Homo sapiens: one gene and its partners. The protein of the gene in region 1 purifies or fractionates together with the protein of each later gene. This does not show direct contact. Each region holds a gene or a part of one and is shown on either strand. Other genes may lie near its edges.

Region 1 (5,620 bases):
GGGCAAATACACAATTGTTTTAGCCACTATGTTTTGGAGTGCTTTATTATGCAGCAATAGATAACCAAAACAATACAAATAAACCAATTAGAACTGTTCCTGTTTGGCAGTAAGCAACAACAACAAAAAATGTCAGTGGTAACCATTGTTATAGTTAATAATCACTATAAAAAATCTTCTTCCCAAAAGGTACTTTTCTGGGTATTTAAGTGTTCTTAAAGGGACTCTGTTCATTTCACCAATGGCCAGTAAAGAGAGAGAAGTAAAGCAACCAGAAAGTCTACTCTTCGTTTTTCCTTTTCCCTTCCTAATTTATGGCTGTCCTTTTTAGCTTTGCCAGTAATGTTTGCCTGTTTTCCCCAGAGTGGCTAATCAATGATCCATACCGATTCTAGCATTCAACTGTGCTCTGTACCTCAGTCACTACAGACATCACCGTCAACTTCCCTCCAGACCACAGGTAACTAAAAGTTCTGTAGACCAGACTCTTCACTAAGGGTGAAAAGTTTAAACTCATCTAATTCATAATTATGTTTTCCTGATAGAATCATTAAGCGAAGAGCATCAGAACCAATAACCTCTTGCTCAGAAAATAAATTAAGTAGCAGGAAAAACATACCTGCTATTTTTCCTCAAAGAATTTACTGATCCTAATTACACAAATTTCTTTTTCTTTTAACCCTCATGACCTTTGCTCATACTTCACTCGTGATATTTATCTTAACCTAGCCTGAATCACAGTAATTGGTTTACTTAATTTCCTACTAGATCTAATACTCCCTTTTCTCCCATTGAGAAAAGGGGCATTTTACTCTTGCAACCCTTGAAGCACCTACTATATTTCTCTGCTACTTATACAAATACAGTAAAAAATATGAGTTCTGGTCATCAATCATTGTCCGTAACTAATCTTAGCAAGTCTCACCCCCATTTTTATTAAGAAACAATGGCTCACCCATATGTATAATGCAATCAGTGACAAAGTTAATGAATGCTACATGTTCTAACATTAACCTTCACCAATTATTTGACTTAATAAGAATGATTTTATTTTTGTAGAGACAGTAAAATGATTTTTTTAAAAAAGAAAGGTACTATTTACATTCCTTATTTTCTTTTCCTTAAAGTTTCAGACTTGAGAAGTCTGAATATTAGGTTCAGCATAAGATCCAGGCCAGATGCCAGGCAAATACTGCAATAGCAAAGGCAAAGCAGACCTGGTGGAGACTGCAAATGGAGACCTCAGTACCCACCTAAAAGGGTCAACCGCTACTCAGCTCTGGCAATCTAGTCTCAAGCAGGAATGGCCACCAGGTATAGCCAAGTCCTGTGGGTTTTCTAGAGATGCTAGAAGTTGAGACTTCTTAAATATGAAATCTTCCTATTGGCCGCGAGGTGGCTCACGCCTGTAATCCCAGCACTTTGGGAGGCCAAGGCAGGCGGATCACCTGAGGTTAGGAGTTCGAGACCAGCCTGGCCAACAGAGTGAAACCCCGTCTCTACTAAAAATACAAAAATTAGCCAGGCATGGTGGTGTGTACCTGTAACCCCGGCTACTGGGGAGGCAGAGGCAGGAGAATCACCTGAATCCGGGAGGCGGAGGTTGCAGTGAGCCAAGATCACACTACTGCACACCACCCTGGGTAACAGAGCAAGACTCCATCTCAAAAAAAAAAAAAAAGAAAAAGAAAAAGAAAAGAAATCTCTATTCTTAAATGGTGACAATTATCAAATATTCCAAATACTCTAAGGGCAAGCAGTATATATCTGTGGGTTGGATTCTCACCAATGGCCACTTGCTACTGCAGACTCACAGTTAAAAATCTCTACATATAACTGATGGTGCACTACACAAACAATATACCTTTACCACCACTGCCCCTCACCCTGCAGAAGAAAAAAAATGAGAACCATGAAAAGAAACTCCAAAAAATTATGGAGTACTAGTGACAAACTTCTTTAATTTAACCTTTTCTCTCTCGAAAAAGAAATCTGTTAACAGTTTTAGATATAGAAACTTTTATAGTAGAGAAATAGAGAGGAAGAATTTTTTTTATTTTTATAATTTTCTCAAAACTTTCAAAAATATTCAAATAAATAGTACAAATTACATAAACATTTCCAGCCTCAACCAAACTAATGAAAATGCTCAGTAATAAAAATGAGACTAATGATTCACCACGTACACAGAAAAACAAGGTACAAAATACTAATTAATAGTGTTAATTTATTTGCACTGGTGTATCTACATATTGTCATTTGACTCTTTTGTGATCAATAGCACAAAACTGGGAACAAAGTTGAACTAACTTCCTGACCATGGAACACTCGAGTAACAAGCCACTTGTGGACTCAATCCTGTGACCTAAACCCCCTTAATACCATGCTATCCATAACTAAGGGGACCAGTTACTCATAGTCAGTATTTAGTCCAACATTTCTTCAATACTTTTACAAAAGATAAATATTATTTGAAAATGTCTTTAAGGCTTTTCCTTCCACTTAAAAATATGAATATCTACATTCAGGAATAGGAATTTATAGAGAACACTTGAATTTCACCTCTAAAATTGCTTAACCTACTGCTAGAAGCCCTTATAAAGTTAAAATAAAATTCTTAATATAATTAATCGTGGTAGGCTTGATTTGGAGTTCAAAACATTCTGTAAAATAGTCATTTAACAAGGGAGATTCTCTAACCAAAAGAATTAGTAGACAATTTAGTGCTAGTAAAATATTACAGTTATGGGCACAGGGGACTACGTATTTATCGAACACTTACTATGCCCAAGTACTGTGACGAATACATCAAGGTATTCATTAAATCTTAAAAAAAAAAAAACAATCATATGAGGAAGGTACCATTCCTATCCCCATTTTACGGATGGGGAAACTGACCTTTCCAAGAATACCCAGCTAGTAAGTGGCAGAGTCAGGATTCCAACCCAAATCTTGTCTAACTTCAGAATCTGCACGCTTAACCACTACACTGCATTGCCTCCAGTGACTCTGGGTTGATAACTAAGATGAAATAAGAAGGAAATTTGTACTTCTCAGTGGCAAATTTTAAAAACATATTATAAATGGAGGGTATTTTTTAGAACATGAACAAGTTTCATATACATAGTCATACAATTTTTATTTCCAAATACATGTAGTAATGGTGAAAATCCCACACAATGAATTTCTCACAATTTTTCATAAGTACTCAATCATGGTGTTTTTTTTTTTTTTAGACAGGGTTTCGTTCTTGCTGCCCAGGCTAGAGTGCAACGGCAGATCTCGGCTCACTGCAACCGCCCCCTCCCTGGTTCAAGCAATTCTGCCTCAACCTCCAGAGTAGCTGGGATTACAGGCGCCCGCCAACACGACCGGCTGATTTTTTTTTTTTAGTAGAGACGGGGTTTCACCGTGTTGGCCAAGCTAGTCTCGAACTCTGACCTCAAGTGATCCACTCGCCTTGGCCTCCCAAATTGCTGGGATTAGAGGCGTGAAGCACCACCCCCAGCCCAATCGTGTTTATTACTAAAAATTTAATGGGAACACCCTGTATTTTCCCCTCAATTTTGCTGAGAACCTAAAACTACTCTAAAAAACAGTCTATTGGGCCAGGCGCGGTGGCTCACACCTGTAATCCCAGCACTTCGGGAGGCAAGTGGATCACCTGAGGTCAGAGTTCGAGACCAGCCTGGCCAACATGGCAAAACCCTGTCTCTACTAAAAATATGAAAATTAGCCAGGCCTGGTTGCGGGCACCTGTAATCCTAGGTACTCAGGAGGCTGAGGCAGGAGAATCGCTTGAACCTGAAGGCGGGGAGGGGCGGGGCGGAGCTTGCAGTGAGCCGAAAACACGCCACTTCACTCCAGCCTGGGCGAAACAGCGAAACTCCATCTCTCAAAAAAAAAAAAAAAAAAAAAAAAAAAAAAAAGAAGTCTACTAAAAACAGTTTTTTTTAACTACAATATCCTAAATATACCTAATTTAGTTATAAACTAGCATAAGACTAGATTCTTTCAGTATGAAAAGTTGCATTGTTTTTCATAACCATTGTACCAAGCATGCTATTAGCATTTAATAAAAATTGAACTATTTTTTTCAAAAGCAGTGCTGTAATATTGTTTTTTTGTTTGTTTGTTTGTTTTGAGACGGGGTTAAGCTCTTATTGCCCAGGCTGGAGTGCAATGGCAGGATCTCGGCTCACTGCAACCTTCGCCTCCCGGGTTCAAGCGATTCTCCTGCCTCAGCCTCCTAAGAAGCTGGGATTACAGGCACCCGCCACCACGCCAGGCTAATTTCGTATTTTTAGTAGAGACGGGGTTTCTCCATCTCGGTCAGGCTGGTCTCAAACTCCGGACTTCAGGTGATCCACCCGCCTCGGCCTCCCGAAGTGCTGGGATTACAGGCGTGAGCCACCGCGCCCAGCAAAATTGGAATTAACACTCCCAGAATACTCCCAGGGACTCTGCATTACAAAGACATTAAAATATGAACCAAACTCTGACGAAAGACTTGAATCCTTTATTGAGGAATATAAAAAGTGGAATACTACATCCCGTTGGCTGGCATAAATATGACTAACTTTACTTTTCCCCTTTAAGTATCAAAAGATGTAGCCTTAAGTCAAAAATGGATTAGGGTAACAGAATCTTTTCCTAATTAGTTTCAGAACTTTCTAAATGCTCCAAAGAAGCTTATCCAAAAAAAAAAAAAAAAAAAAAAAAAAAAAAAAAAAAAGGCCGGGCACCGTGGCTTACGGCTGTAATCCCACCACTTTGGGAGGCTGAGGCCGGCGGATCACCTGAGGTCAGGAGTTCGACATCAGTTTGGCCATATGGCGAAATTTCGTCTCTATTAAAAATACAAAAATTAGCCAGACATGGTGGCATGCGCCTGTAATCCCAGCTACTAGAGAGGCTGAAGCAGGAGAATCTCTTGAACCCGGGAGGCGGAGGTTGCAGTGAGCCGAGATCACGCCACTGCACTCCAGCCTGGGCAACAAGGCGAGACTCCATCTCTGGGGTGGGGGGAAGGAAAAAAAAAAAAACCTCTGAATTGTCCAGAGTGACTGTCAACATATGAACCAAATCTTTTTTTCTTGATATTCAACAAAGTTGTCAAAATTCTTTTTTTTTTTTTTTTGAGACAGAGTCTCGCTCTGTCACCCAGGCTGGAGTGCAGCGGCACGATCTCGGCTCACTGCAACCTCCGCCTCCTGGGTTCAAGCGATTCTTCTGCCTCAGCCTCCCAAGTAGCTAGGATTATAGGCGCGTGCCACCGCGTCCGGCTTATTTTTGTATTTTTAGTAGAGACAGGGTTTCACCAGGTTGGCCAGGTTGGTCTCGAACTCCTGACCTCAGGTGATCCGCCCACCTCAGCCTCTCAAAGTGCTGGGATTACAGGTGTGAGCCACTGCGCCCGGCCGGTTGTTAAAATTCTAAGGGTCAATTAAGGGTTATATGAGAAATCTATAACAAGTTTTGCCTAATAACACTTCCCATCTCAACATTTTCATCAAGGTCCACCTTTAAGAATAAACACCTAAGTTCAATTAAGACAAGTGAGGAGGAGGTATTAACTTACATTTTAAAAAAGTCATTGTCCTGTATATTTTACAGACTG
Region 2 (4,162 bases), on another chromosome or scaffold:
CTAGCCTGGCCATCATGGCAAAACCCATCTCTACTAAAATTCAAGAACTAGCCAGGTGTGGTGCCACACACCTGTAATTCCAGCTACTTGGGAGGCTGATGCACAAGGATCGCTAGAGCCTGGGAGGCAGAGGTTACAGTGAGCCAAGATGGCACCACTGCACTCCAGCCTGGGCAACAGAGCAAGATTCTGTCTTAAAAAAAAAAAGAAACTAAGCTTACCTAATTCTGGAAGGAGGAATTAAGGAAGAGCTAAGAACCATAAATAACAGGGCCATAACAAACCCCAATTCTTTAGGCTTGGCGATCCCAAGTTCTTAGGTTATATAACTGAGGATGTAATACTGTTTCTGTGATCTATTTACAAGAGCCCTTAACACTCTTTTCTTGGAGAACCCCACTACAACCTTGTGAAATGGGCACTCTTTTTTTTTTATTTTTTTGAGATGGAGTCTCACCCTGTCGCCAGGCTGGAATGCAGTGGTTCGATCTTGGCTCAGTGCAGTCTCCGCCTCCTGGGTTCAAGTGATTCTCCTGCCTCAGCCTCCCGAGTAGCTGGGATTACAGGCGTGCGCCACCACACCCAGCTAATTTTTGTATATTTAGTAGATACGGGGTTTCACCATGTTGGCCAGGATGGTCTCAATCTCCTGACCTCATGATCTTGGACTCTCAAAGTGCTGGGATTACAGGTGTGAGCCAGCACGCCCGGCCAAGATGGGCACTCTTATAGACATCCCCACTTTACAGATGAGGAAACTAAGGCTTAGTGCTTAAACTCCTCCTACTGGATTGTTCCTCTGCTGTAAACCTTCTCTGGCTCCCCATGGCCTGCAGCAGCGGTTCTCAAGCTATAGTGTATTTAAGACATCAAGAGGCCGGGTGTGCTGGCTCACACCTATAATCCCAGCACTTAGGGAGGCCGAGGCGGCTGGATCATGAGGTCAGGGGTTCGAGACCAGCCTGACCAACGTGGTGAAACCCTGTCTCTACTAAAAATACAAAAAAAGTAGCTGGGCGTGGTGGCGGGCGCCTGTAATCCCAGCTACTCAGGAGGCTGAGGCAGGAGAATTGCTTGAACCCGGGAGGCAGAGGTTGCAGTGAGCCAAGATCGTGCCACTGCACTCCAGCCTGGGTGACAGAGCACTCTGTCTCAAAAAAAAAAAAAAAAAAAAGACATCAAGGGAGCTCTCACAGAATGTAGACTGGAAATTCTGATTCCAGAAGGCCCAGGAGAGGTTCTAGAATCTGTCATCTTTTTTTTGAGATAGAGTCTTGCTCTTGCTCTGTTGCCCAGGCTGGAGTGCAGTGGTGCAATCTCGGCTCACTGCAACCTCCACCTCCTGGGTTCAAGCGATTCTCCTGCCTCAGCCACCCGAGTAGCTGGGATTACAGGAGCCCACCACCACGCCCAGCTAGTTTTTGTAATTTTAGTAGGGATGGGGTTTCACCATGTTGGCCAGGCTGGTCTCAAACTCCTGACCTCAGGTGATCCACCCAAAGGAGGCTGGGATTACAGGCATGAGCCACTAGGCCAGGCCGAGAATCCATAATCTTAGTAAGTGCTTAGGGGTTCCTAGCACAATAAAACCACTGATACCCACACACAACCCACAGGTTCACACTCCCTGGCCTGATGATCAAGATCCTATATGAGTTGATCCCTAAGGACATTTTCAGGGAAACTCCTGCTCATCCTTCCAATTCCAGTTCTTCCCAGGCACATAAACACAAGGCAGAATTAACCATTTCCCCAGTTGGCCTACGGCAGCACTTCTCAAACCTGGTAGTGCATTCGAATCACCTGGACACCCTGTTCTGCTGTGATTCTGGCTCAGTGGCTCTGGAGCATGAGCTTCTGCGTTTCTAACAAGTTATTGAATGCACTGCTAGCCCTGCTTTGAGTAGCAAGGGGCTACTGCACTATGCAGCATGACTGCTGCGGTACTCCTCACAACATTTCACCCACGGGGCCAGGATTTCACAGATAGTGCTGACAACGGCTCCTGAAATTCCCTTAAAATCAGCAGGAAGTAGGGAGATTAGGAGAGCAAACTTTGAGATCAACATATACCACTTCCTAGAGCCTCATGCTGTGATTACTTATCAGTATCAAATAACTATACCATTTACTGACTACCTACAGGCCACAACCTGCACCAAGCATTCTGTGTCTGCTCTGGTATAAACTGTTAACCCACATAAGGTACTCAGGTCTTGGTAGGCCCACCATAAATGGTAGCTTTTATTTCTAATTCTTACAACGTACATGTCAGGCTTTTATCAGCCCCATTTATCATCTGGACTGCACTACCACTTTCTAAAATTTTAGTTAGTCCTTAAAAGGACTAATTAACATGAGGTAGAGAATTACCAATAAGAAAACTAAGGACAAAGCAGTTAAGTAACTTGCCCAGCATCAGTTACACAGCCAGCAACAGGGGAATCCAGGATGTGAACTCTAGACAGTCTGACTCTAGCAGTCTGACTCTAGACCTTAGGCTCTCAAGTGCTACATACGGTAAACGCTGGTAAGCCTGTCTTTACACAGTGTACCTCCCACTCACACTCTCTAAAAAAGGGACACTGATATTCAGAGAAGTGAAGTGTGAAGTCAGCTATCTTAGGACAATGAGCTCTAGGGTGGAAGTGAAACAGCAATCAAGGGCTGTTACTCCCAACCCCTCATTCTATGCCATGCCACCTTGCCAGTCTGACTTGTCCAACCTTGAAGTAAATAAAAATGCCAATAAGGATTAACACCTGGGGAAAGTGATTCTGCCCTGCCCAGCTACAGACTTCCTGGCCACAGGGATTAGCTGCCACGGACTCCCCAGACATGTACACTACGGTCACATGATGCTCACGTGTCTTTCTCCTTCTCAGAACTCTCATACTCCAGGAACACGATGTGCCGGGGATAGTGGCCACAGATATCCCCATTCGTGTTTGGAATCACGCTGAAACAGTAGTCTCGGCCAAACAGCTCCAGACATCTCTTCTCAATGCGCTCAACCTGCACAGAGAAGGAGACCAGAACACAAAGAGAATTCTGGGGTTCTGAGGGTGAGAATTAGGAGGTCCATGGCCTAAGAGGTCACTGGGAAAGACATGTACCTGGGTGATAATTATTCTGTGCTGGGAAGATGTGATGCTAGGCCACAGGTCCTACGTGTAGTCCATTAACCCATATATTGTATACTTCAGGAAGGATTCTTAAACCCCTAACAATGAATCTGAAATTGTGGGTATTGAGCATTTGGGGGAGACGATTACAGCTTTCATTAGATTCAAAGAGGTCTACAACCCATAAAACATAAGAACTCTTGGTCCAGGTTACTGAAACTGCCACTAATCCACTACCTTCATTGGTCAGCTTCCCCATTCTCTTATTTATTTTTTGAGACGGAGTCTCGCTCTGTCGCCCAGGCTGCAGTGCAGTGGGGCAATCTCAGCTCACTGCAGCCTCCGCGTCCGGGGTTCAAGCGATTCTCCTGTCTCACCCCGAGTAGCTGGGATTACAGGTGCGTAGAACCACGCCTGACTAATTTTTCTATTTTTAGTAGAGACAGGGGTTTCACCATGTTGGCCAGGCTAGTTTCAAACTCCTGACCTCAGGTGACCCGCCCACCTCGGCCTCCCCAAGTGCTGGGATTACAGGCGTGAGCCACGGCACCCGGCCTTTATTTTTTTAAAAGACACAGTCTCACTCTGTCATCCAAGCTGGAGTGCAGTGGCACGATCTCAGCTCACTGCAACCTCAGCCTCCTGGGTTCAAGTGAGCATATTTGGCTAATTTTCATATTTTTAGTAGAGATGGGGTTTCACCATGCTGGCCAGGCTGGTCTTGAACTCCTGATCTCAAGTGATCCGCCCGCCTCAGCCTCCCAGGTGTGAGCCACCATGCCTGGCCTCTTCCCCATTCCTTTTTTTTTTTTTTGAGAAAGAGTCTTGCTCTGTCACCCAGGCTAGAGTGCAATGGTGTGATCTCTGCTCACTGCAACCTCTGCCTCCTGGGTGAGCCACCACGCCCAGCCAACAAAAAATTTTTAATAGAGATGGGGTTCATGTTTCCAGGCTGCTCTCGAACTCCTGGGCTGAAGCAGTCTACCTGCCTTGGCCTCCCAAAGTGCTAGGATTACACGCGTGAGCCAGTGTACTGG
Region 3 (3,731 bases), on another chromosome or scaffold:
GTTTCCATTCCAACAACCTATCCCCTACCCCCAGTGGGGCATTTGCACACTTGATCAGCATAACCCAGGGATTCTCCCCTGGGATTTCCAGACCCTGGGGAGCCAGATGGGTTCTAGAATTTGGGCAAGAAAAAGAAATTACACCTTTTACTAACCTCTAATAGAAGTTTAGCATTTCCTCCAATTATGAATATGGGTAAAACCACCAGTAGTATTAGCAGTACCTGTGACTTGTCACTAATTGACACCACAGCTACTTTTATGTCTCACTGTGACTGTTGTAGAAATCTCAAATATGGCTTATGCTCATTAGTATTTGGAAAATGTCAGTTTATTACACCTGTTTTTAGATCTTGTTATTAAATACATGAAAAAGAAGCACATTAGTTTCATAATTTTTTAGCATTTTGGTAAACTGTTTCCATTGGTTTCCCTTATAATCCTATACATTTTATGGGTTTTGTTGTTGTTGTTGTTCTGTTTTTGAGACAGTCTCACTCTGTTGCCCAGGCTGGAGCACAGTTGTGTGATCTCAGCTCACTGCAACCCCCACCTCCCGGGTTCTAAGCAATTCTCCTGCCTCAGCCTCCTGAATAGCTGAGATTACAGGCGCATGCCACCACACCCTGCTAATTTTTGTATCTTTAGTAGAGATGGGGTTTTGCTATGTTGGCCAGGTTGGTCTCGAACTCCTGGCCTCAAGTGATCTACCCACCTCAGCCTCCCAAAGTGCTGGGATTACAGGGGTGAGCCACTATGCCTGGTCCATTTTATAGGTTTTAAAACCTAATTCTGAGGAGGACTCAGTAGACCTCTACAGACTGCCAAAGGCGTTTATGGCACAAAAAAGGTTCAGCACCCCTGGCCTGACTGCATTCCTTCCAGGCCTCCACCAGAGCACCCCTCTGAGTTGAGAAGGTTCATGCACTCAGACATTCATGCATCTCCTGAGGTCCCACAGGCAAAGGCCTGGATTATCCAGAAACAGAACACAATGCTGGGCAAAACAGGTGATGGGAAATGGAATGAGGAGGCAGGAAAAAAGGAAGATGGGAAGTGGGTTGGGAAGTGGGTTCAGAGGGAGGTGCAGGAGGCAGAGTTACCAAATTCCCAAGGAACCCACTCACACAGTTGTGGAAAACTCAACCTTTATTATTACCTGCCTAGTGCAGGGGATTAAAATTGCCTCAAGCTAGGTCCATATATTAGTGTAAAAATCTGTGTCTCTCCCCCCAAAAATGTACAAACCCCAAGTGATTATAGAAAAATCAATGTGGCAGCTACACTAGAGATGTCCAACCCCAAGGCTATGGGCCGTTGCTCCCTCTTTCCCCCCAATCCCAATATTTACTCCACAGAAACGTATAGGCTTAGAGAAGTTCTAGCTACAAGACTGCAAGTGGGAAGTGGGGGTGACTGAGGGCTGGGGCGGGGCTACCCCCAGGTCCAGTGTTTCAGGTGATGGAGGAGGAAGAAGCCCAAGCTGAGGACAAGTACAGGAGCAGGCACAAGGAAACATTTTCCTCTCCTTCTTGTCCTCCTCACCCCCAGATTCTCAGCCAGTGGGGTCCAGTGTGTGACAGGGAGAGAGAAGCTGGGGGCGCAGCCACCTCTCCAGGAATCAGTGTTGTCCAGTGGGGCCCAGGTGCTCCAATGGGCCATGTCCAGTGTCTATCCTATATTTCTCCCCACCCTTCCCCAAGGGATGGCTAGAGGAGGGTGGAGAGGATCCCATCCACAGGACCAGCTGGGTGGGCGACAGGGGCTTCTAGGAAGGAAGAACAGGAAGGGGACATGAGAGTGTGTCCAGGAAGGGGAGAAGGGGCATCAGCTCCCTGGGTGGGCCCAGCCCACCTGCAGTCTCACTGCCTCTATTAGAGGTGATGGGCTGTCGGGAGGGGAAGGGCAGAGGTGCCATTGTGTCCTCTTGTTTTAGTGTCACTGGCTTCCCCTGGATCGCTCCCTGAGGGAGGGGCAGCTGGATGTGTGATTCACACCGTGTTGAGTGCATCCTCTGCCAGGAACCGATGCAGCTGGGAAAAGGGTGGTCGCTGCTCAGACTCCCGGCTCCAGCACCGAAGCATCAGCTCATATAGGCCCTGCGGGCAGGCAGGCGGCCGGGACAGGTACACCTGCATTGTGGCAGTGTGGATGAGAGTCAGGGAACAAATATTCTTTAGTCTCCAAGATGACAACTCTGCCCCTTCTGTCCCCCGCCTCGGACCCATCTTCCCTCTCCTCCACTCTGACCTGCCGGCCCTGGTCCCGGAAGAACTCCCCCGCGTTCTCGATGACCTGCTCGTCGGTGAGCTGCCCAAAGGGCTGGGCCCTACAGAGCATCAGCACCTCCCACAGGGTCACACCAAAGGCCCACACGTCACTCGCAGTCGTGAACTTCCCCTGGGATGCAGAGAAGGCAGCAAAAACAGACAGGGACATCAGGCAACGTAGACCCTCCTCCCTTCCTATTGGAAGCCCCAGATCCACTCTGGGCTCCACTCAGGCCTGATCCCTCCTGACGCCAGGCTCTCCACTCTCCTCCGCTGGCCACCTTTTCCAACTCCTCTCCCTTGGGCTCTGCCTTTCCTCTCCATGCTCTGGTCCTCTCTCCAGGGCCCTGGCCCACCTCTTCCTTCTGCTCCTCCTTCCTCTCCATCCACCCCCACTTTCTGGTCCTGACCTTCGGTCTCCCTACCCAACCCCTTCTATCTCCAGCTTCCTCGCCCAACCTCATCTCTTGAGCTCTCTGCCACCCTGTCTCCATCCCCAGTACCCACTCTTGGCTCCTGGATTCTTGCCCATCACACTGCAGCTCCTGCTTTCCCCAGTCCCTTGGGCTAGGAGAACCTCATATTATAGATGAGATTCTGTAAAATGCAACCCAGAGAAAGTGTGTGACTGATGGAGACCAGGGCTGTGAGTGGCGGCCAGTGTTCTCCCACCTGCCCTGCTCCAACCTGGCTGTCCTCGGGCTGCTCACCATGAGGATGCACTCCCAGGCCATCCAGCGGATGGGCAGCACTGCCCGGCCCTGCACACGGTAATAGTCCCCAGCATAGAGGTTCCGGCTCATGCCAAAGTCTGCGATTTTGATGGTGAAATTTTCCCCAACTAGGCAGTTCCGCGTGGCCAGGTCCCGATGTACAAAGTTGAGTGTGGCCAGATAGCGCATGCCGGAGGCGATCTGGGCTGCCACATGCAGCAGCATTGGGTAGCTGAGAAGGGAACCGACAGAAGGTCACTGGGGGCAGCTTCGCAGATTCCCATCCAGGAGAGGAGAGAGAGCCCACTCCCCGGGCCCGGTCACTCTGGCTCCCCATGTGGAGGTGGAATGCCCACGTGAGGCCAAGGGTCACTTCCCTCTCAATCTCCCAGGCCTGGCCAACACTAGGGGGCTCTTCTTTTATTGTGCTCCCCAATCTGGACTCAGAGGGGAGTGAGGGTGAGAGAAAGCAGAAGGGACGTCATGGCAGGGCCCAAGTCCCTTCACCACTCTTGCATAGTCACCTCCAGCCTTTCTGTCCATGTTCCTGGGTTAACTTGTCACACATTCCTTATCCCAGGCCCTCCTGGAACCTCTCTCCCTTCCCACCCCCACGCTCCCCTCTTTTCCTCCAGGCTGAAGCGAGGGGAGAGGAGGAGATCCCCTGGGGGAATTCTGAGCAAGGCCCAGCCTGGGTAAGCAGGTACCTGATGGTGGGCCCCTGCGCAGCCTGCCCGTCCCCAGGGGC
Region 4 (4,162 bases), on another chromosome or scaffold:
TAACTGTACAACTATAGTCATTGGCCTTTTCTCTCAGAGTTTTAGAACAAAGTCTTGCCACTATCTACTCTTCACCTCTCCAAATCCCAACACTCACCATTAAGAACAGCCACTCCAGCTCCTCGCCTAGCCACATTCATGGGTGCAATTAAAGTCCAGGTATTATTTTCAGGATTGTATCGTTCTACTGTGTTCAGACAATTCCAAGATTCTGCACCTCCGATTATGTACAAATAACCACCAAGCTCACAGACTGCAGACTGGTGTCTCCCTACAAGAAAAGTCAAGTCAAGATTATTGCTACATCTCCCAGACTCTAAGTGTATACTACACATACTGTTGATTTGAAGGTCTTTAAAAAAAAAAAGGAAAAAAAATCAACTTACGAATGTTAAGAGGGGCACAGCTTGTCCACAACTTTGTTACAGGATCAAATACATCACAATTTTTCAGTCCTTTTTGACCATATGGATCAGAGCCACCAACGATGTATAACTTTCCATTCAGAGCACACACTCCTATGTAAGTATAAAATAAAGTTACATATTGATAATTTAATTATCATATTTAAATACTGGATATCTCAGGAGAAAACTATTATTACCTGCATTACAACGGTTAGTTCTCAATTCTGGAACAGGAATCCAGTCATCTATGTTTGAATCATACATCTCTCCACAACTCAGGTCATCTGAGTGGCCATTTGATCCACCTACCACATAGAGCTGGCCCTATGCCAAAAGTGAGAGATGAGAATTTCTAACATCCTGAAGTTACGAGGAAAAAGCTAAATAGGGGTTGCTCCTGCAACATAATGCGCTTACCATGAGTACAGCCATTTGAAATCGGGCTCTTGGTGTTCTCATGGGAGCAAGAAAGGACCAGTGATCTGTATGTGGATTATAGCATTCGACTGTTCGAAGACATTCCTCTCTGTTATAGCCACCTGGTAAAAAATAAAACCATAAAGATTTATGTTTAAAATATTAAACTGGACCACGGTTTCCAGTCCTGTAAGTTTAAGAAATCTGCACAATGAGAAAAAGTATTAAAACTTTTTAAGGATGCCTTAGTTGATCTTTTAACTAAGTGCTTGTAATAGCTGAAAAATCGCATTATCAGTACAAATAAACTGCTTAGTCTTGGCTTGAATATTAGAAAAATTTAGCCATGACATAATTTTTTTAAAAATTAGATACAGACATTGAACTGAAGGTTAGCCATATTCAATAGTATTGTTATTTCCCTATCTTATTGGATTGCCGTGAAAGATGGCATATTAAACCCTCTCTTTGAAAGTTTGCATGTCACAAAAATGCCCATCTACATGCTTAGCCAGTTGAATGCTTCTGTTCTTACCTGCAGCTATGAGTTTGCCATTCATCTCTGCTGTTCCCAGACCAGATCGTGCGTACTGCATAGGAGACATGGGCTTTTCGATTAGCTCATCTTGTTGCATCTCAAAGCTTAAACTCTTACTTAGTTTTGGAGTACTTGTTGGTGAGCTCTGTGGGCTGTTTCTCCCATGAAGAAAAATGACACAGAATATACCATCCAGCACAGCCAGGCACAAGTAAGTGTTATCTGTAAGCACAAGAGTTCCATGTTTAAGATGTAATTATTACTTTTGGTTTGTGTATATGATCCTGAATTGGACTCCAGTCTCCACATCCCAGACTGGAACAATCTGCTCTCGTTTTCCAAATTTAATTGCTTCTGAGTTTTTTCCTCGAGTAGTCAATTTAAGAGGTATTAAATTGGCAACACTCCTTCTTAAAAATAGGTAAGCTGAAAACAATCTGGCAAGTGTCATATACTTACTTGAAGTCTTTTCTGAAGCAACGATTTTCCACTCATGCTTAGGGCTTTGTACTGTAGCATTTGGAGAAGAGAGACATCCAGTTGAACTGCTACTTATCTGCTTATGGCCATTCTCACGTGGTGGCTTTTTCTGCAAAATCAAAAGGTAGCTACAGAAACCTAGCCAAAGACCACATCTGATGTACCTTTGTTCCTGAGCTATTCCACAACACTGAGTATCCTTCACCTATATATGACATTTATAGGACACTAACTTTAACTCAAGCCAACACTTTCCAAATGACACAAATTACTGGCATACTTCCATCTCCACTCAATGATGAGACAACTACGCCTACACAATTAGCCTAGGTAAGAAAAAGCTCAGTTTTAACAATTTGAAAAACATGTTGCAAATCAAGACCTCAGCAGAAGAAAAAACCAATCTATAATTATTTTTATATTAAGTATAGAATCTTTTAAAAGAATGCTATAAATTTAAAATAGTGTGAATTAACAGAGAATACATTTAACCCACTATTTTCATGAAATTGTCAAACCTAACTAAATCATATGTACAGGTATCCTTCATACAATGCCAGCAAAACGTAAGCAGATATAGATTCATCCAGTTTCTCTGAAAGTACTTGACAGGAAAAAAGTGGCAATTACAAGAAACACTTAAAGAATATTTCTTTAGGATTACCTTATAGGTATTATAGAGTGGTTTTCTAGACAAAATTACATCAAAACACAAGAAAATAGTAATCAGAAATGAAACATTACTAAAAACAACCAAATATTCACAAAAGTAGAATATACAGGAATACTAAAGAGGGAGAAATGAACAAAGCTGCCAATTTCCAAATGATTGTAAGAGAACTACTTTACACATGTGTTCTCATGTATGAGTTTTCCTTGATGGCTTCCTTCCAATTACTTTAGCCTTTGCCACTTCCAAAGGATATGATCATATGGAATTGGAAGAGTAAAGACTACTCTGAGAGGAACTGCCAAATGAACAGGTAGCAACTTCAGCACCTGGCCTAGTTTGCTCATCCCACTTGTGCTGGTCCAGATGGCCAGAACACATGGATAGGTAAAATTTCTAATGGAAATTTCTGTTGCTAGTGGAAGCAAAAAGCCATATAACAAGTAATTGAGAAAAAGATTTTGCTAGCTACTTGAAGCTATTAAGAAAAAGCTATATCAAAAGTTAGGCCTGAGTGTGGTTACAACATACGTAGGCTATTTTGAGAAAAGGCAGGGAATGTATCATTATCAATGGTTATGATTAAATTCCACTTAGATGTTTACTATGTACCTAGGTATTACTAGGTACTTTATTTACATCATCTCTTTTAGTCCAGTGAGGGTGATATTATCTACCCATTTTATAGATAAAAATATTGAAACTCAAGAAGATATGCATTGCCCAAGGCAATACAACTAAAATAAAGATTAGGAATTATGAAGATAAACCCCATCCTTTTTATACTATGACAAGTTATGTCATACTATAAAACAGATTTACACTATGACAGGCTGTTTTCCACTGTTACTAAAGTTGTGAATGCATCTTTCATATCACTTTTATACTATGAATATTAAGAATAAAAAATAAGGTTAGACTTATCTAACCTTATCTATTATTATGAATTACAAGGTACATAAAACCTCATCCCAACCTATGGGAAGAAGGGATCCAAATATCACAAATGGATGATGCTTACATTGAGGCTGTACTGAAGTAAAAAAACTGTTCTAATGTACAAACTATAATTAAGAGAAAATGACTGTGAAAGAGAAAGGCCCAAAAGCAATGCCTAATAACAAGCCTAATATAGAAATGCTGATTAAATCCTTTATATGTAAAGAATATATCCCTAAACCTTATTTTACATGACCTCCCAGAGAACTTGACAGTGTTTAGTCCTCCTTCAAACTTTCTTCTCCTACCTTAGGTAGCTTTTACAACATGATTAGATTCTTATTGTCCTCTGACTTTTCTAATGGCTTCTTCTCAACCTCCTTTTTCTATTCCTGAAGTCTAACATGTGTCCCTCGCATCCTCTTCATGATCTCTATTCATGGCATCACATTCTAATGAGTCACACATGTCAGAATCCCACTTATTCTCAAATTCTTTCTTTTCCCTAATCTTGCTAAGCAATCACTAAGGCCTGCTAAGTCAACCTTTGTAAATATAAATGTCTATTTATATATAGACATAAATAAAAAATCTATCCTTTCTCCTTCATGCCCCTAGATTAATCCCTCATCATTTTTTTAAAACCTGAACTACTGCTGGCAATAGTCTATAAACTGGGCTCAAACTTTTATTGATTTTCTGTGTCTGGTT

The links. Proteins that work in one complex are often made in the same cells at the same time.
Region 2: the proteins of RASA1 (region 1) and MTMR14 purify together in Homo sapiens (affinity purification with mass spectrometry; one large-scale study listed by BioGRID and IntAct). This does not show direct contact.
Region 3: the proteins of RASA1 (region 1) and DDR1 purify together in Homo sapiens (pull-down; one large-scale study listed by IntAct). This does not show direct contact.
Region 4: the proteins of RASA1 (region 1) and IVNS1ABP purify together in Homo sapiens (affinity purification with mass spectrometry; one large-scale study listed by BioGRID and IntAct). This does not show direct contact.

What each region holds. Positions count from the first base shown.
Region 1 is NC_000005.10:87,269,762-87,275,381, reverse strand, and holds part of RASA1 (ras GTPase-activating protein 1), read right to left. Parts: intron 1-5,620. UniProt on the Homo sapiens protein: Inhibitory regulator of the Ras-cyclic AMP pathway. Stimulates the GTPase of normal but not oncogenic Ras p21; this stimulation may be further increased in the presence of NCK1.
Region 2 is NC_000003.12:9,652,474-9,656,635, reverse strand, and holds part of MTMR14 (phosphatidylinositol-3,5-bisphosphate 3-phosphatase MTMR14), read right to left. Parts: intron 3,016-4,162; coding exon 2,867-3,015; intron 1-2,866. UniProt on the Homo sapiens protein: Lipid phosphatase that specifically dephosphorylates the D-3 position of phosphatidylinositol 3-phosphate and phosphatidylinositol 3,5-bisphosphate, generating phosphatidylinositol and phosphatidylinositol 5-phosphate.
Region 3 is NC_000006.12:30,897,557-30,901,287, reverse strand, and holds the end of DDR1 (epithelial discoidin domain-containing receptor 1 isoform 2 precursor), read right to left. Parts: coding exon 3,691-3,731; intron 3,216-3,690; coding exon 2,981-3,215; intron 2,401-2,980; coding exon 2,251-2,400; intron 2,133-2,250; coding exon 1,992-2,132; 3' UTR 1,132-1,991; downstream 1-1,131. UniProt on the Homo sapiens protein: Tyrosine kinase that functions as a cell surface receptor for fibrillar collagen and regulates cell attachment to the extracellular matrix, remodeling of the extracellular matrix, cell migration, differentiation, survival and cell proliferation.
Region 4 is NC_000001.11:185,299,613-185,303,774, forward strand, and holds part of IVNS1ABP (influenza virus NS1A-binding protein), read right to left. Parts: intron 1,952-4,162; coding exon 1,822-1,951; intron 1,585-1,821; coding exon 1,360-1,584; intron 947-1,359; coding exon 825-946; intron 732-824; coding exon 605-731; intron 519-604; coding exon 387-518; intron 272-386; coding exon 98-271; intron 1-97. UniProt on the Homo sapiens protein: Involved in many cell functions, including pre-mRNA splicing, the aryl hydrocarbon receptor (AHR) pathway, F-actin organization and protein ubiquitination.